Linked DNA regions of Homo sapiens: region 1 is linked to region 2. A link means that fine-mapping ties the variant in region 2 to the expression of a gene that starts in the linked region. Tissue or cell type: whole blood. Region 2 holds a variant in brackets; the other region holds the start of a gene. All regions are shown on one strand. Distances are from middle to middle.

Evidence for each region.
Region 1: ACSM1 starts here. The variant in region 2 is fine-mapped to the expression of ACSM1 in whole blood (TOPMed, PIP above 0.99). The same link has a PIP of 0.9 or more in esophagus muscle, sun-exposed skin and tibial artery.

What each region holds. Positions count from the first base shown.
Region 1 is chr16:20,692,503-20,700,838 of GRCh38, forward strand. It overlaps ACSM1 (acyl-CoA synthetase medium chain family member 1), which reads right to left and starts at 5,178. Exons shown (of 14, transcript NM_001318890.3): 1 at 5,134-5,178. It also overlaps a transcript of ACSM3 not described here.
Region 2 is chr16:20,673,040-20,681,375 of GRCh38, forward strand. The region is part of intron 4 of ACSM1 (acyl-CoA synthetase medium chain family member 1); the gene reads right to left. It also overlaps a transcript of ACSM3 not described here. Among named protein-coding and RNA genes, the nearest start is that of ACSM1, 20 kb to the right of the region's middle. The variant T/C (reference allele first, on the strand shown) is at 3,182.

The DNA of each region.
Region 1 (8,336 bases), 19 kb after region 2:
TGCACCGGTATCTCTCAGACACCAGACGTCAGAGAGAGAGCAGGTTGTAAAATATGTCTTAGACCTAAAAGGGTATGTGGCTCTTAGTTGATTGTCTCCTGGATCTGGGAAGGAAGGAAAGAAAACAAAGAGGAAATGGGGTTCTTTATAGAATGTGGATTTTTCCTACAAGAGACTTTGCAGGGCAATTTCAAGGTATGGCAAGGAAATATATTTTTGGGTAAAACATTTTGATTTTCTTCTTGTTATGCCAGAGTCTGATTGGAAAGTAAGTCTTGATATACAGGGTTAAATAAAACCCATCTGATGAGAATTTATGGTTTGTAGGGCATAACTCCCTAAGCCCCTTAGATAGGAATTTCAGCAAGATAAAAAATTAGAGCTTAGGCCAGGCACAGTGGCTCATGCCTATAATCCCAGCCCTTTGGGAGGCTGAGGCAGGTGGATCATGAGGTCAGGAGTTTGAGACCATCCTGGCTAACATGATGAAACCCTGTCTCTACTAAAAATTTGAAAAATTAGCCAGGCATGGAAGTGCCTGCCTGTAGTCCCAGCTACTGGTGAGGCTGAGGCAGGAGAATCACTTGAACCTGGGAGTCGGAGGTTGCAGTGAGCCGAGATCATGCCACTGCACTGAAGCCTGGGCAACAGAGCAAAATTCCGTCTCAAAAAAAAAAAAAAAAATTCAGATCTTAGTCCTCACTGCTAATGTCACTGCACTTTCCAATGGACTGGGATGTGGCATTGAGTTCTTCCCTAGAGTAGCATTCAGGACAGCTGATACCAATGCATCAGAGTTGACACATAAAATTAAACCTCATTGCCCCTTCAGATCCTGAAATATGCTGCCAACATGACAGCAGGAACCTCCTTTATTAGGATCCTTCTTGAAGTTTGATTGGAAAAAATGGCTTAAGCTGGATCCTTTCTTTCCATGTAAATGTTGACTGAAGAAAGCTATTTCTCAAACAGCTTTGAGATTGAAGCACTTTATCATCATGAACATTTAAGTTCCCTCTTGCTCACTTTCAACAATGATAAAATACCGGCTGACAACAGACCCATATAATAGACAATAGAACTAGTAATGGCCAGTGATGCTGGGTCTTTATTTCAACTTGTTGTCAAGTGGCTGGAGCTGAGAATTGTCTGCTTTATTTAAATGAGATGTTCTCCAGTTTGATGCAGTTCCTACCACTTTATTTTGTCCCTCCTGCCTGCTTCTCCACTTATTGTAGCTGTCCAGCCCCTGTGTATATTTGAGCTTAAAATCTCTAACCTAGGCCAACATCCCAGGAGAGGCAGGAATTTCCCCAAAGTCATGATGCAATTTTAATATTGTAAAAAGTAAAATAGAGGTTCCTCTTCAAAGACTTTCCTCCCCATCTAATTAGGAATAAATAGTAACTTCTCTTAAAAGCAAAATTTATTCAAAGTCCTGTGCTAAGATTCTTAAATATCTGCTAACCGTAATAAAGAAATCAATGTACTTTATGTTCTTAGCTCCCACAATTTAGCCTAAATATTTGCCCTGGCATTCTTATACTGGTCCAAGCAAGCATTAGGCCATAGCCTGTTCCTCTTGCTTATTTAAAAGTGTTTTAATCTTTCTCAGCATTTCACGAGTTACTTCCTCTTTCCTTTGTTCTCCTCTACCTTTGCCTCTTTAAAAAAGTTCTAAGTTGCTAGCCAATCGGGACAAATACAGAATGTGAGGTCCCGTTCCAGCCAGTGGAAACCGGACACAGCAGTAGGGTGGATGCGTCAGGTTATAAATGACCCTGTCTCCTTTGTTCTATGTACTCTCCTGGCAAAACTGCTGGCAAGTGTACCATTTCTGCAGGAAGTAAAAATGGCCTTGCTGAGTAAATTAAATTTACATTCAAGTCCTATTTCTTTACGGCACCAAGGAACAAACATTTCAAACAATATTGTAGCCAAGTTGGTTCTAGAAGCCCATCACCTCTGTTACATTTTCCAACACACACCTCCTTCCACAGGCATGAGCTTAGTTTGGGTGAGAATATCAAACTCAGTTGCAATTTTTCTATGCAGGTGTCTATATGACCTCAGGGTCTTCCTTAAAATACAAACTCACCATTTTTCCTGAAGACAGTCCAAACAACCCCTTACTAAGTGACTAAAGACCAAAACAAAAGGGAGAGATATAGTGAGGGAATCCATTAACCAGTTATCATGGTTTGAACTGTGTCCCCCATGAATGTATGTGGTGAAGTACGAACCCCAATATTTCAGAACACCACTGTATTTGGAGATTGGGTCTTTAAAAATGTAATTAAGTTAAAATGAGTTATTAGGGTGGGCCCTAATCCAATATGACTGGTGTCCTTATAAAAAGAGGAGATTAGGACACAGACACACACAGAGGGAGACCATGTGAATATGAAGATAGCCAAGGAAAAAGACCTCAGAGAAAACCACCCTGATCTTGGACCTCCAGCCTTCAGAACTTTGAGAAAATCAATTTCTGTTGTTTAAACCACTCAGTCATTAGTAATTTTCATGGCAGCCCTAGCAAACCAATGTACTCCTCTTGATCAAATAAAGAAGAAATGACTTTGGCATCATCTCACAAATGTGTTTGTGATTCTAATTTAATCTTCGTCACATGAGAGGGCCAAACACAGTGCCCAGCTGTGGAGAACTGTGGTAGCTGAAACAGCATGGCCCTAGAGATCAAACAACACGGGCTCAAATTCCAGCACTTTCATTTCCCACCCACATAACTTGGGGCAATTTATTTAACCTCCCTATAAAAACATAGGCATATTGGCAGCACCTATTGCCTGAAGCCATGGTGATAAATGCACGATATCCTGCAAAAAGCATTCAGCACGGACAAGTATTTTAGAAATAAGAGCTGTTGCTAGTTAACACACTTTATAGGGAAGCTCTTATAGAGTAGTTAAGCCAGAGGAAAAAAATTTCCTTAACTTTTGGAGTTAAGGTCTAAAGAGAAGGAATGGGGATGAATACCTGAACATAGACACCATAGGACTGGTATATGTCCAGCTTTTTCACTGATTATCTGTCTATCTATCTATCTATCTATTACCTATCTATTATCTATCTATCATCTATTTATCTATCTATTACCTATCTATTATGTATCTATCGTCTATCTATCTACCTATTACCTATTTTCTATCTATCTATCATCTATCTATCTATCTATCTATCTAGATATATAAGAACCTGATCTCCAAGTGTTGAGGACTGAAAATCAGATATCTATATGTCTATGTCTGCGTCTATCTCTATCTCTGTATGTATGTTAAGCTTCATTTCTAAATCTATTTCTGTATCTATATACCAATATTTACATTTATACCTATATCACTATCTGTGTATATCTATACATTAATATTAATGTCTATAACAATAACACATGTACACTGTAGTCATGTGCCACAATATGATGTCATTGTCAGTGATGGATCACATATACAGAGTGGCCCATACAATTATAATGACATATTTCTACTGTACCTTTTCTATGTTTCAATACACAAGTACTTACCATCGTGTCATGACTGCCTACAGTATTTAATACAGCAACAAGCTACATAGGTTTGTAGCCTAGAAGCAATGGGCTATAGCATATCGCCTATATGTGTAGAAGACTATGCTTTGTGGGTTTGTGTAAGTACACTCTATGAGTTCCCATAATAACAAAATCACCTAACAATGCATTTCTCAGACGTATCTTGGTTGTTAAGTGATGCATGTCTCTATCTCTATCACTATCTCTGTCTCTATCTCTATCTCCGTCTCTGTCTCTGTTTCGATATCTATTTCCATCCACATCTGTCTTCAGATTTGACTTCACAAAGCTTAGTTTGTCTATTTCTCACCGTGCTGGACATAGTAAGTGCTCAACAAAAAGTTAGATTCTTCCCTTCTTTGTCATAATTCAGAAAACTGAGTGATGAAAGTCAGAAAGAGAAAAGCCAGTGTGCCCACAAATTATCTGAGTTATAGAAAAATGTATTTTTTCTTTCTCAAGTATTTACTATAGATGTACCATGTACAGTTTTAGATACTATTGGAGATTAATTAAACTGAAAGAGTTCCTACCCTGTTAGAGCATATCATTAAAGCACATCCTATGAAATCATTTTAAAGAACAATTTTCTGAACTGCTTAAAGTGCATTCTGAAAGCAATTTGACATGGTAGCTTTGAGAGGCAGCTGGGCTCCCCACTGTATTCCCAGATACATAGTGCCTTGAACAGCTCCTGCAACTAAGCTTTGACTTCACAGGACTTGGGACTGATAAAGCTATTTAATGAAGCAACATACTTACTGTGTTATAGGGTATCCCAGAGTTACAGAGCCAGGGCTAGATGTTTGTCTCTGTTGTCTAGCAGCTGGGTCTTTGGTGCTGTTCATGTCTCTGAACTTAAGCGCACAGTAGTAATACCTTCTTCCCAGCTCCCCATAAGGATTAGTGTGATAATTTACTTGCTGGCACTGAATGAAGTGCACGGTAAGGACTCAATAAATGTTGAGGTACCTTTTAACTCCCAGCAAATTCTGAAGCCAACCCCCTCCCCATTAGATGTTAACCATTTTTTTTGAAACTGTCACCTGGACTGGAGTGCAGTGGTGTGATCATAGCTCACTGCAGCCTCAATCTCCTGGGCTACAGTCATCCTCCTGCCTCAGCCTTTCAAGTACCTGGGACCACAGGCATGTATTACTATGCTTGGATAATTTTTTTTAGAAGGCATTCACTTTATAGAAAGTGAGCCAACTTCTGCATAGATAGAAAAGATTTCCTTCAAACATTCATCTCTGACTTTGTGCCTGTCTCCCACGGCTCACCACATTCAGAGCTGCCTGACACTAAACCAGTCCCCATTTACATGCCAGCCACTGTGCTAAACATATTACATGTACGTTCCTATTTATTCCTCTCACCCAATATCACCATTGTCATTTTGCCTCTAAAATGAAGTGCCAAGAAGTTAAGTGACTTGCCCAAGGTCACTCAACTTAAAAGTAGCATTGCCAGAACTTAAAATTGGATTACACACACACACACACACACACACACACACACACACACACACACACACAGATAGAAGCTGACCTTCACCTCTGTCTTACCTGGTACTGTTTAGGACGTAGCTGAACTAGGTCCCTGGTAGGTATGGAAAAGGAGGTTGAGCTCTCTTTTGTAGGTTCAGTTCTCTCTGATCAGGTGATCCGCAGGATTGTGCACCCAGCAGAACTTGGCTTCTGGCCACAGCGAAGGGGGACCTTGAACAGAGAACTTGTTAGGAATTGGGTAATTCAGTAGGGGGAGGAGATGCTCAGGTAAAATAGGACAGAAACAATTACAGGCCTCCACGGAGAGATAATCACTTAGAAAACAAACCATGTGGGCCGGGCGCAGTGGCTCGCGCCTGTAATCCCAGCACATTGGGAGGCCGAGGCGGGCGGATCACGAGGTCAGGAGATGGAGACCATCCTGGCTAACACGGTGAAACCCCGTCTCTACTAAAAATACAAAAAATTAGCCGGGTGTGGTGGTGGGCGCCTGTAGTCCCAGCTACTCGGGAGGCTGAGGCAGGAGAATGGCGTGAACACGGGAGGCGGAGCTTGCAGTGAGCCGAGATCATGCCACTGCACTCCAGCCTGGGAGACAGAGACTCTGTCTCAAAAAAAAAAAAAAAAAGAAAAACAAACCACGTATACGAAGTCACCTCCAATTCCGGTGGCATGGCTAGGGGTGTGAATGAACTAGATCCAATGGTGCATTTTCACTAGTTCTCTGTGGCTAACCTGCTCCCCCTTCCCAGCCCTACATCACCATAGTCTCCCTTAAATGACAGCTGAGAGTCAGTGTAGCCTAATGGATAAGAGCCTGGGCTCTGGAGGTCTGGAGGCAGAAAGGTCTGAGTTTGAGCCTTAGGTCTGCCACTTAACCTCCATGTCATCTTTGTGGACCTTCTTGCTCTGGGCCTCACCTCCCTTAATTGGTTTTCGGTTGCTTTTGAGACAGAATCTCATGCTGTCACCCAGGCTGGAATGCAATGGCATGGTCTTGGCTCACTGCAACCTCCGCCTCCCAGGTTTAATTGAGTCTCTTGCCTCAGCCTCCCAAGTAGCTGGGATTATAGGTGCCCGCCACCACACCCAGTTAATTTTTGTATTTTTAATAGAGACAGGGTTTCATCATGTTGGCCAGGGTGGTCTTGAGCTCTTGACCTCAGGTGATCTGCCCGCCTCAGCCTCCTAAAGTGCTGGGATTACAGGCATGAGCCACAGCACCCAACACCTACCTTATTTGTAAAATAGGAATGATAACAACAATACCTACCTCCCAGGGTGTTTTCTTTGCTTCTTCATTTGTTTGTTAGAACTAGATGAAATAATTTATAAAAAGCATGTAGCACACGGTGCTGGGCATAGTCGATGTTGGCTCTTTTTATTCACTTGGGATTCTCAGAGGAACAATTTGGTATCCTGGTAAAATGCAGGGTCTTTGGAATCCCAAAGTCTTGAGCTTAATTAAGTCCAACCTCAGGCACTCACAAGAAAGCTCTTGGGTGAACCATTTTCCTTTCAAAGCTTGGTCTTGACATTTGTAAAATGAAGCAGGATTTGTTAATAAGATTTGTTGCATGGGATCATTGAAAGGATTATGTGACACCAAGCCTGTAAAGCACCTGGACCAGGCATTTAGATGGAGGGTTGATAGTGATATTGCATTGGATAAACCAAGGTAGTCATAGGTAGCGGCTTGTACTATGACTTTTCTACTGGAGCCATTTTTGGGGCATTGTTAGAGAATGAGGGATCTCCAGTATTTTCATTGAAGCTGGGAAGAAATTATTTCTGATCAAAGTCATGGCTAAAGATTTCTGGAGACACCCAGGACATTCCTGACAGGACCGTGTGGCAAGCTAGGATAGTTTGGGTTTTTAATATTTAGCTTTCTGTGGCCAGTCACTGGAGAGGTGAGAAGGCAGGGCTAGTTGACTGGCCATGGTAAGCTAAACCTTAAACACCCAAAGCATCAAAGTACCAAAAAACAAAGAAACGAACAAACAAAACAACTAACCAAAAAACCTCTGTTACTAAAGAGAAGGAGCAGCCACTTTTCGGAAAAGAATGGAGACGGGGGAAAAGCCCTTGACACACTCTCTGCATCTGAGTAGTTCTCCCCTGTGGAACTGCAACATGAAGGCATGGACAAGAAGACAGGCTCTGGCACCAGGCAGCCTGGGCTTGAGTCTAGCTTTTACCAGTTACCAGCTCTGTGACATTGAGCAGATTTCTTATCCCTCTTTTCCTCAATTTTCTCATCTTTAACAAGAGGTATACAGCGGACAAAGGAAAACTCTCCAAACATTCTATGTGTGCTCCTCTTTCATTTCCCAACCTCTCTTAAAGCTAAAGTGAGGCCATTAAACTCTAGTTCTGAACAATAAACTCCATGTGGAAGTGTTACAAGTCACTTCTGGCCTAGGGCATTTATTTAAGAGCAGGTATGAGTTTTCTGTACTCTCTTCCCCTGATTCAATGCTCCTGGAAACCATATATGGAGATAGTGACATCGTAAAATGGCAAAGTCTCTATCAGCCTTGTTCTCTGAGTGACTTCATGTAGCTAAATATCCTACCAACCTCAGCTTTTTGAACTTGCTATCGTCTGCTTATTATAGAAAACCTATGATACATTCATTCATTCAGTGGATATTTAAGGAACATTTAGGCGTGCTTTAAACATGTAAGACAAGGTTGGTGCTCTCAAGAGGTTTACATGCCTATGATAGAAAGGCAAAAGCCAATAAGCAAAAAGTCAATTAAATAAGCAAGAGGATTTCAAATGGTGATACTGCCAAAAAGAAAACAGAACAGGGCAATATGATGGAGAGAGTGTGGGGAGGTGGCTAAGGATGTTCTCCCTTAAGAGGTGACATTTTGAGACCTGAAGGAGGAGAAGCAGCCAGCTAGGGAAAAAGAACTCCAGGCAAAAGCCACAGCAAGTGCAAAGCCTGAGGCTGACATTTTCAAGGCATAGGTGGGGGACTGGGATGGCAGATTACTGAGTGAGAAGTATGATAAAGTGTGAGGTCAGAGACACAAGCAGGAGACATGCCATTAAGGATCTTTATGGACATAATAAGGAGTTTGGATTCTATTCTAAGTGCAATGGGTGGGTGCATGGAAGTCTCGTGAAGATTTTAGGAGGAAAGAGACATGATCCTATTAAGTAACTCATTTTCTTGGTGACTTGATTTTGAAATAAAGTAATACAGGAAAGTAAAACATTCAGAAAAAGAGGTCAGATTTGCATTTAGA
Region 2 (8,336 bases):
TGTCATATATACATATAATTATATGATATATATACTTATATATAAATTATACTTATATATAAATTTGCATATTATATATATATTATATATAAAATTACTGCGATCAATGTACCTCTGCCCTAGCATGAGCTTGAGATGGCAGATAAGATCTGTGGTTCCCTCAGTCTCTCTTGTTTCTCAGGAGCTTCCCCTGGACTGAGAGGGCCTTGGGCCTACTACAATTGTAAATGCAAGGCTTCTATGGTGTTCAAAGCAACTGCAAATAATCCCAACACGAGAGGAAACACTAGGTCTGCTGGTCTTGCTGTGAAATGGTATCATACTGACTTTGGGAAATTCGAGGGATTTTTCAAGAGTACTCTGTTTTAATTAAATTCTCTGACATTAGACTACAGCATAAGATGTGACTTTGCTGTAATGTTTGCCTTTTGGGGTTGAAATAAAGAGCTTTAAAAACTCAAGTATTACTCCAAGAAAACAAACCCAGCATGGTTTGTGTGTATAATGTGAGACATGACTGAAGGCTTACAGAATCAGAGTTTTGGAGGCAGAAGGGGCCTTTCTTATCTCCAGCCTTCCTTCACTTTGCCCCCAGGTGTCTCTGAAGGCACCCAGTCCCTGGGAGATGGAAAGAGTTTGCTCCCAAAGCTACCTATAAGCCATAGTTGGCAATTCCATTTTTCTTGGGGTCTTAAGTTTTACCTTAAAAATTCATTTTAACCTTTCATTCAACTACTTCATATATTTTTAATAGAAAAATAAGACTTTAGGTTTCCCACCTACAAGGAATATGTAACACAATAACCCCCTGACTTTACAAATCTCCTTTGCACAGTCCCAGGGGTGAGTATATTTTAATGAGAGGAACATGGAAGGTTGACTTGCTGAAAAATGTGAAATTTTACAGATAAAGCAACTGAGATCAAGAGAGGGCAAGGAACTAGGTCAGGGTCACATAGCAAAACAGTGACATAAGTGAGGTTTCTGACAACTGACTTGATGACCTTCCTACCACTGGCTGCTTGTCTCTCACCACTTGGGAGTGAATGGCATTCTTCTACCTGTGGAACAGGAATTAAAAGAAATTAAAGAATGTGTAAGCAAAAACTCAGTTGTATGTAAGAAAACCCAGTTGCCCCAGAGGAAGAGAAAGAGGTGGAGTCCTTTAAAAATTAACTGCCTGTTTCTCTGTCTGTGGCTAGTGAGCCTTATCTCTCCCTTTCCCAGGCATTGTGAAGACCCTGTTTCTCTAGCTGTGCAGCTGCAAGGTCACTAGACAGATAAACCCAAGTTGCAAAACATGTTTTTCCTTGAAAAGTAAGAAATGATGTAATGCATGTCTCAATTGAATAACTGTCTTTGTTTCTCACTTCTGTAATATGCTTCCCCCTGAACAGATCTCTCCCTCCCCCCTCTCCACCCCCAAAATGCTTAAAAGGTAACCTGACTCTTTGTTCTGGGCTCAGTCCTTTGGATATTAATCTGACTGGGTTGGCTGGTGCACCTAAATAATACATATATCCTCCTCAACCCCATCGGTCTCTCTGATTCCTAAATCATCCCCAAACATTTCTGGTGGCCCATATGGGGATTGGAGATAACAGATTTACTGTCTCCTTTGCCCATGGGACTAGGGCCCTGGGGCTGTGGAAGACCTGGCATCCAAGGCATGCCATGGGGGAGTTTCACCCGGATGGAGACTGGCTCTCCCCGCATCCTGCCCAGCAGTGCAACTGAACCTGAGATGGGGCTGCAGGATGACACCAGCACTTCAGGAACCGCGGTAAGGAGAAAGGGCCCAAGGTAGGAAAGCCCATCCCATAGGGATGAAGGTGAGCTTGATCACCTCCCAGGGACCAACCACTCATCCAACCCAGAGTGGCTGGGGGTGGCAGGAGTGGCCCGCCAATTTGGATGAACCTCGTGTCCCCCTAACAAAGTGAAAGTGGTTCACTGGTGGAGAAAATGGGCCGATACAGCGGCAAGTGCAGCAAGGAAGAGTTTGCTGGCAGAATGGTAAGAGTGGCTTGCCACCCCAACTGGGAGTGTGTGGGTGTGTGCGGACCTACCCAGGACACCAGAGAGGTTCGTTTCCTCTGATGAAGAGTCCTGGGGTAGAAGTGGTGTGTGTATGTGTGTGAATGTGGGAATCTAACTAGGCTCACCCGGGACACGAGAGAGGGTTGTTTTGTCCGATGAGGAGTCCTGAGGCAAGGGAGGTGTGTGAAAGTGTGTGAAAGAGACGGTCTCAGGAGAGGCCAATGCGGGGAGTAATGTGGGGAGGCACAGATCCCTTAGCGCAGGCTGTGTGCTCCCAGGCGAGTGTGGGGGAAATCAGTCCTAGGATGTTGCATATGGCTGATAGGTTGAGCTTCACAGCTGCAGCAGTCTGTGGCAGGGAAAGGCACGTTCCTGGCTAAGCAGCGTCTGAAACTCCTGTAATAGGACCCAGTCTGGTGGACCTTAGAGTGAAAGTGCACCTCAAGGGAGGAAATGGGAGGAAAAGCATGGAAACCAACTCCTTTTGGAGTGCATGATAAAGAATTTTTAAAAAGGATTTAGAGCTGATTATGGGATGAAACTGGATGTTCAAAAGTTAAGGACATACTGTGAATTAGAATAGCCCTCTTTTAGTGATGGATGGCTGACCAATGGCACTATAGGTAAATTGGCTGTGTGTTTTAAGGTAGTGACTAGCCCTGGAAGACAGCCAGGGCATTCAGACCTAGTCTTTATATTGATTCATGGCTAAATGAATGCAGCCCTGCCTAGCAGTTTATTGTAGAACGTTCACAGCTCACACCCAGAGAAACCAGCTGCGCTGGCGGCTACGGAGTTAAAGGTAAAGTCACAGAGGCTTGTAGCACCAAAAGTGAAAAGTGAAAGCCAAAAGTAAAAGTAAAAATCAGCTGCCCTGGCAACTACGGAGACAAAAGAAAAGTCTCAGGAAAGAGAAAACCAGTTTTGCAAGAACCACAGGAGGGAATAGAGACCCCTCCTCCCTACATTCCAATCTACCTCCCTTTACCAAGGCTAACTGCCCCTAAGGAATTAAGTTCAAAGAGATACAGGCTCCCAGTCTCACCTGAGAAGGAGAAATTAGAGCTCCAGGAAGTTAAAGTGAAAGGCTGGAAAAGTCAGGGAGGGTGTCTCAGGTCTGGTCACGCCCAAGTTATGCTTA[T/C]GCCTCTTAAGAGGACAAGAGGACACCCACTAGGACCCAGATGATGCAGTCCAGCTTCAGCACCTACAAAAGTGCCAAGAAGCCCTTCTGCAAAGGCTAAAGGCTGGTAAAAGAAAAAGGCAACCAATATAAAAAATCTCAGAGGTGCTCCAGGGTGCAGATAAAAGCACCAGCCAGTTTTAAGAAAGACTTTTTGAGGCATTTTGGTTGTACACTCTGTTTAACCCTAAGGCTGCTGAAAATCAGTGCATGGTGGACACAGCATTTGTAAGGCAGGCCCAAGGAGATATCAGGCACAAATTGCAGAAGTTAGAAGCTCCGTAGGTGTGAATGCAACTCAGCTTATTAAAGTGGTTACAAGGTGTACATTAACTGAGTTCAGGAGGCAGAGAAGAAAGCTGATCAGAGGCTTAACAAAGGCTAATTTACTAGCAGCAGCCCTTATGGGAAGAGAAGCTGGCTTTGCAAGGAGGCATGGTCGTGGGCGTGAACACAGTCATGGAAAAGGCTGGTTTGGACAGGAGTTTGAAAGCTGGCCAAGGCTAGAGAGAGATTAATGTGCACGGTGCAAAAGGAAATGACACTAGAAGAATAAATGCCCCAAAAAATAAATAAATAAAATAAGGAGAATGGTCAAGGCCATGGTATAAAAAAAAACCCTCCAGCCAAGGGCTACTGCACCCAGGAGAAACCCAAGACTCCCTGCACCTGCTGTGAAAGGCAGGACATAAAGTGTCAGAAAAAAGCTCAAATCTGCTCTAAAAGTCTCCAGTATTTAAGCCTTTATATAAGCCAAGAGGAAAGATGGCTTAGTAGTAAACAAAAGCAATCTGTTTGTGCACTTCCTACTCCAACCACCTGGTGTCAAATAAGAGAGTTCCTAAGGGCAGCAAGGTTCTGCTGCATTTAGATCCCAAATTTCTAGCTTATGGCTAAGCCACAAAGAGAAGGAAAGAAAGAGCCCCTCCTCTAGGAGGCTAACCAGGAGAAGACTTTTAAAGAAATTAAAAAAAAAAAAAAAGCCTTGACTCAGGCCCCAGCTTTAGGACTGCCAGATCTAACTAACTAAGCTTATCTTCTTGTATGCCCATAAGTGAAAGGGAGGCCATGAAGGTTCTAACTCAAGCCATAAGGTCATGGCATCACCCAGTGACATACTTATCCAGGCAATTAGATTCTGTGGCACTTCACTGGCCTCCTTGTTTTAAAGCAATAGCTGCCACTGCCCTACTGGCTCAATAAGCTAACAAACTAACTTTAGAGACTGTGAATACCCTAAACCCGGCTACCTTGCTCCTCATCAAGTCAGTACCAGGAGACCCCCTTCATTGCTGTGTAAATGTGATAGATGAAGTGTTCTCAAGCCAGAGAGATTTGACAGATAGGCCCCTTGGGGAGCCAGACATAGAATATTTTACTGATGGAAGCAGTTTCATACGAAAGGGAATCTGCTGAGCTGGGTATGCAGTGGTGACTTTGGACTCAGTAGTAGAGGTGCAGTCTTTGCCTACAGAAACTTCTGCTTAGAAAGCAGAGCTAATAGCTCTGACAAGAGCTCTCTGGCTAGCAAAAGACCAAAAGACAAATATTTACACAGATTCCAAATATGCTTCTGACACTTTCCATGTTCATGAGGCTATTTACAAAGAAAAAAAAGGCTTTTAACTGCTGAAAGTAAAGAAATAAAGTACAAGGAAGAAATTCTACAGCTCTTAAATGCTGTATAGGCCTTAAAAGATGTGGCAGAGATGCACTGCAAGGGGCACCATAAAGGAAGAATACTAAAGGCTAAAATAAATAAATAAATAAATAAATAAATAAATGAGACAAAGAGGCAAAGCAGGACAACCCCACCTTCTAAAGAAGAAGCCTTAGCTATGCCTCTCCTCCCAGAGATTCCCCTTCTGTAGATCCCAAGCTACACTCCAAATGAAAGGGCTTGTTTTGCCCAGAAAAATATCAACTACATTGAAGAAGGATAGTAAAAATTTTCCAGTGGGAGGCTAGCCATCCCTGAAACGGTGGCCCCCAGATTTGTAAAACAGTTCCACCAAGGAACTGACCTGAAAAAAAAACACACAAAAAAACAGCACTAAAGACATTATTAAGGCATCATTTCTATGTGCCATGGCTCACTGCTATTACTCAAGCCATTTGTAAATGAACAATATTTAACTTGTGTTCAGAACAATCCATGACAAGGGCTTACTCCACCCCCAGGAGTTCAGGAAACAGAAGCCATGCCATGTGAAAAACTGCTTATGAACTTCACCGAATTACCCTGTGATGGGGGCTATCAGTACATGTTGGTGTTCACCTTTTCAGGATAAGTCAAGGCCTTCCTCACCGGGACAGAGAAGGAACTAGAGGTGACCAAAGTGTTGTTAAAAGACATTATTCCCAGATTTGGACTGCCTCTAACTCTAAGATCTCACAATGGACCAACATTTGTGGCTGAAATAGTTCAGGACTTAACTTGACTATTAAAAATAAAATGGAAATAACATATAGCCTACAGACTGCAGAGCTCAGGTAAAGCGAAGAGCATGAACCAGACACTAAAACAACTGCTGAAGAAATTGTGTCAAGAAACTCATCAAAGGTAGGATCAGGTCTTGCCCATGGTCCTCCTCCAAGTCAGGTGCACCTCCACCAAGCAAACTGGGTATTCCCCCTCTGAGATTTTGTTCAGCCGGCCACCCCCCATCATCTGTAGACTAGAAGAAGTAACTTTAAGAAGGCAAATGCAGACTTTAAGTATGGCCATGCAAAAATGCATGGCTAGGTATAGAAAAATGCCTATAAGTCTAACAGACCCAGTACACCCTTTCAAACCTAAGGATTTTCTTTAAGTTAAAAAATGGAATCCAACCACTCTAGGACCCATACAGGATAGGCCTCATATTGTAATCATGTCTACTTCTACTGCTGTTAAAGTTGCAGGTGTCACACCTTGGATTCACCATAGCTGGCTGAAACTAGCAGCAGCAGTGACTCCCGACTATGACCAGTGGATTAACCAACAAGACCCTGATTGCCCCACCCGAATAGACCTACGGCGAATCCCAACCACCAGTAAGAAGGACAACTGCCCTGCTCTGACCACACTGGAGGCTGGTCAGTCTACACATGGCTGAAGCTTGAAGATCTTGCAAGCTCTGCTCTAGTCACATCCTGGAAGCTGACTAGTCTACACACAGCCGAAGCTAAGAGGACCATCTCTAGATAAGTAAATGTAGATAAAATTTATAAGCCTAGTTATAATTGTTCTGTTGTTACATTATTACTGCAAATGCTGCAAATGTCCATGCCCAGAGGAAGGTTTGCCATTCCTATGTGTAGTGTAAGCATGTTTCTATTACATACACTAATGTTGTTACCATTTCTGCCTATACTAGAAGGGGAGAAATCTCTAGAAGGATGCCCACACTGTGTACATACTACCTGGGTAAGGAATACCATAGTTAAAACTCTACTGTACCATACCTACAGTACAGGAACCAAGTTAGGAACCTGCACATACAACCAGACCACCTATTCGGTCTGTGACCCAGGAAATAATCAGCTATATGTATGTTATGACCCTAAGCTCTTACCCTATGAATTCTGGTTTGAAATACATATTAAATCAGAGGGAGAAAAAGAAGGAGAGTTATAGCTCGAACAAAAGAAGCCCCTCCCTCCTGTAAAGGGCCTATTTCCTTGTACTTTGATGCCTGCTATGCTGCATATGTTCACAATCCTAAAAAAAAACAGAAGCAGTCTGCAATGGTGTAACACAAGAGAGGCTTAGCAGGAGCAGCCCTAAGCATCTGTACAAAGAACCACAAATCGGATGCCCAGACTGTAACATTCAGTGGTCCACACTAACACAACTCCAATATTTATATTCAGGAAGGAGTGCTCTGCTAAGTAGTATGTTAACCAAACCAAACTGTAAGACAAGAACATGCAATCCTTTACATTTTACTATCTTAAAGCCAGAGATACCTTTCTGGTCTACAGGACAGACAGCACTATAACGACTTGATAGACTAGGAGCAGGCCTTGGAGTTCCACTACTAATTGTCAAAAAGACTAAAAGGACTCAAATGCATCCAACCCCGCAATTCTGGGTCCATAATCATTCTATAAGCATTTGGATAAGCCAGTGCCTGAGCTTCCCCCACCAACCAAAAACTTATTTGCTCAACTAGCTGAAAACATAGCTGGCAGCTTAGGAATTTCCTCATGCTATGTACGTGGAGGAACTAATATGGGGAACCAGTGGCCATGGGAGGCAAAGGAATTAATGCCACAAGATAACTTCACTTCGCTTAACCCTGCCAGTGAACCAACAGCCTCAGCCAGTGTTTGGTTGTTAAAAACCTCCATAATTGGAAAGTACCGTATCGCCCGTTGGGGAAAGGCTTTCACAGAGGCAGTAGGAGAAATAACCTGCCTAGGGCAACAGTATTATGATGAGACTAAAAACAAAACTCTATGGAGAAGCACCCAGAATTACTCCTACTTACCAGATCCAAATCCTTTATCTCCATTCTCTACCCTAAGCCACACTTGGCATCAACTAGAGGTTCCAAATGCTTCGAAAGCACCCTCTGGCCTATATTGGATCTGTGGAGCATGGGCATATTGGCAACTGCCAGCTAAATGGACAGGAGCATGTGTGTAGTAACAATCAAGCCATTCTTCTTTCTAATTCCTCTAAAGCAAGGGGAACTCTTATGGTATCCAGTTGATGATGAAAATAAAAGAAGAACTAGAAGAGCATAATCACAAAAATAGACACAAATGTCAAAAAGGATGTGGACATAGGAGACTGGAAAGATAATGAATGGCCTCCTGAAAGAATAATTAAATATTATTGGCCAGCTACCTGGGTGCAAGATGGGTCATGGGGTTACCACACCCCAATCTATATGCTCAACTGCATCATAAGGTTGCAGGCAGTCTTTGAAATTATAACCAATGAAACATCAAGGGCACTAGATTTATTGGCAATACAAGCAACACAAATGAGAAATGCTATATATTGAAATAGATTGGCATTAGATTATCACTTAGCCTCTGAAGGAAGAGTATGTGGAAAATTTAATTTAACCAACTGTTGCCTAGAAATTGCTAATAATGGCCGGGTTGTCATGGAAATCAGAGC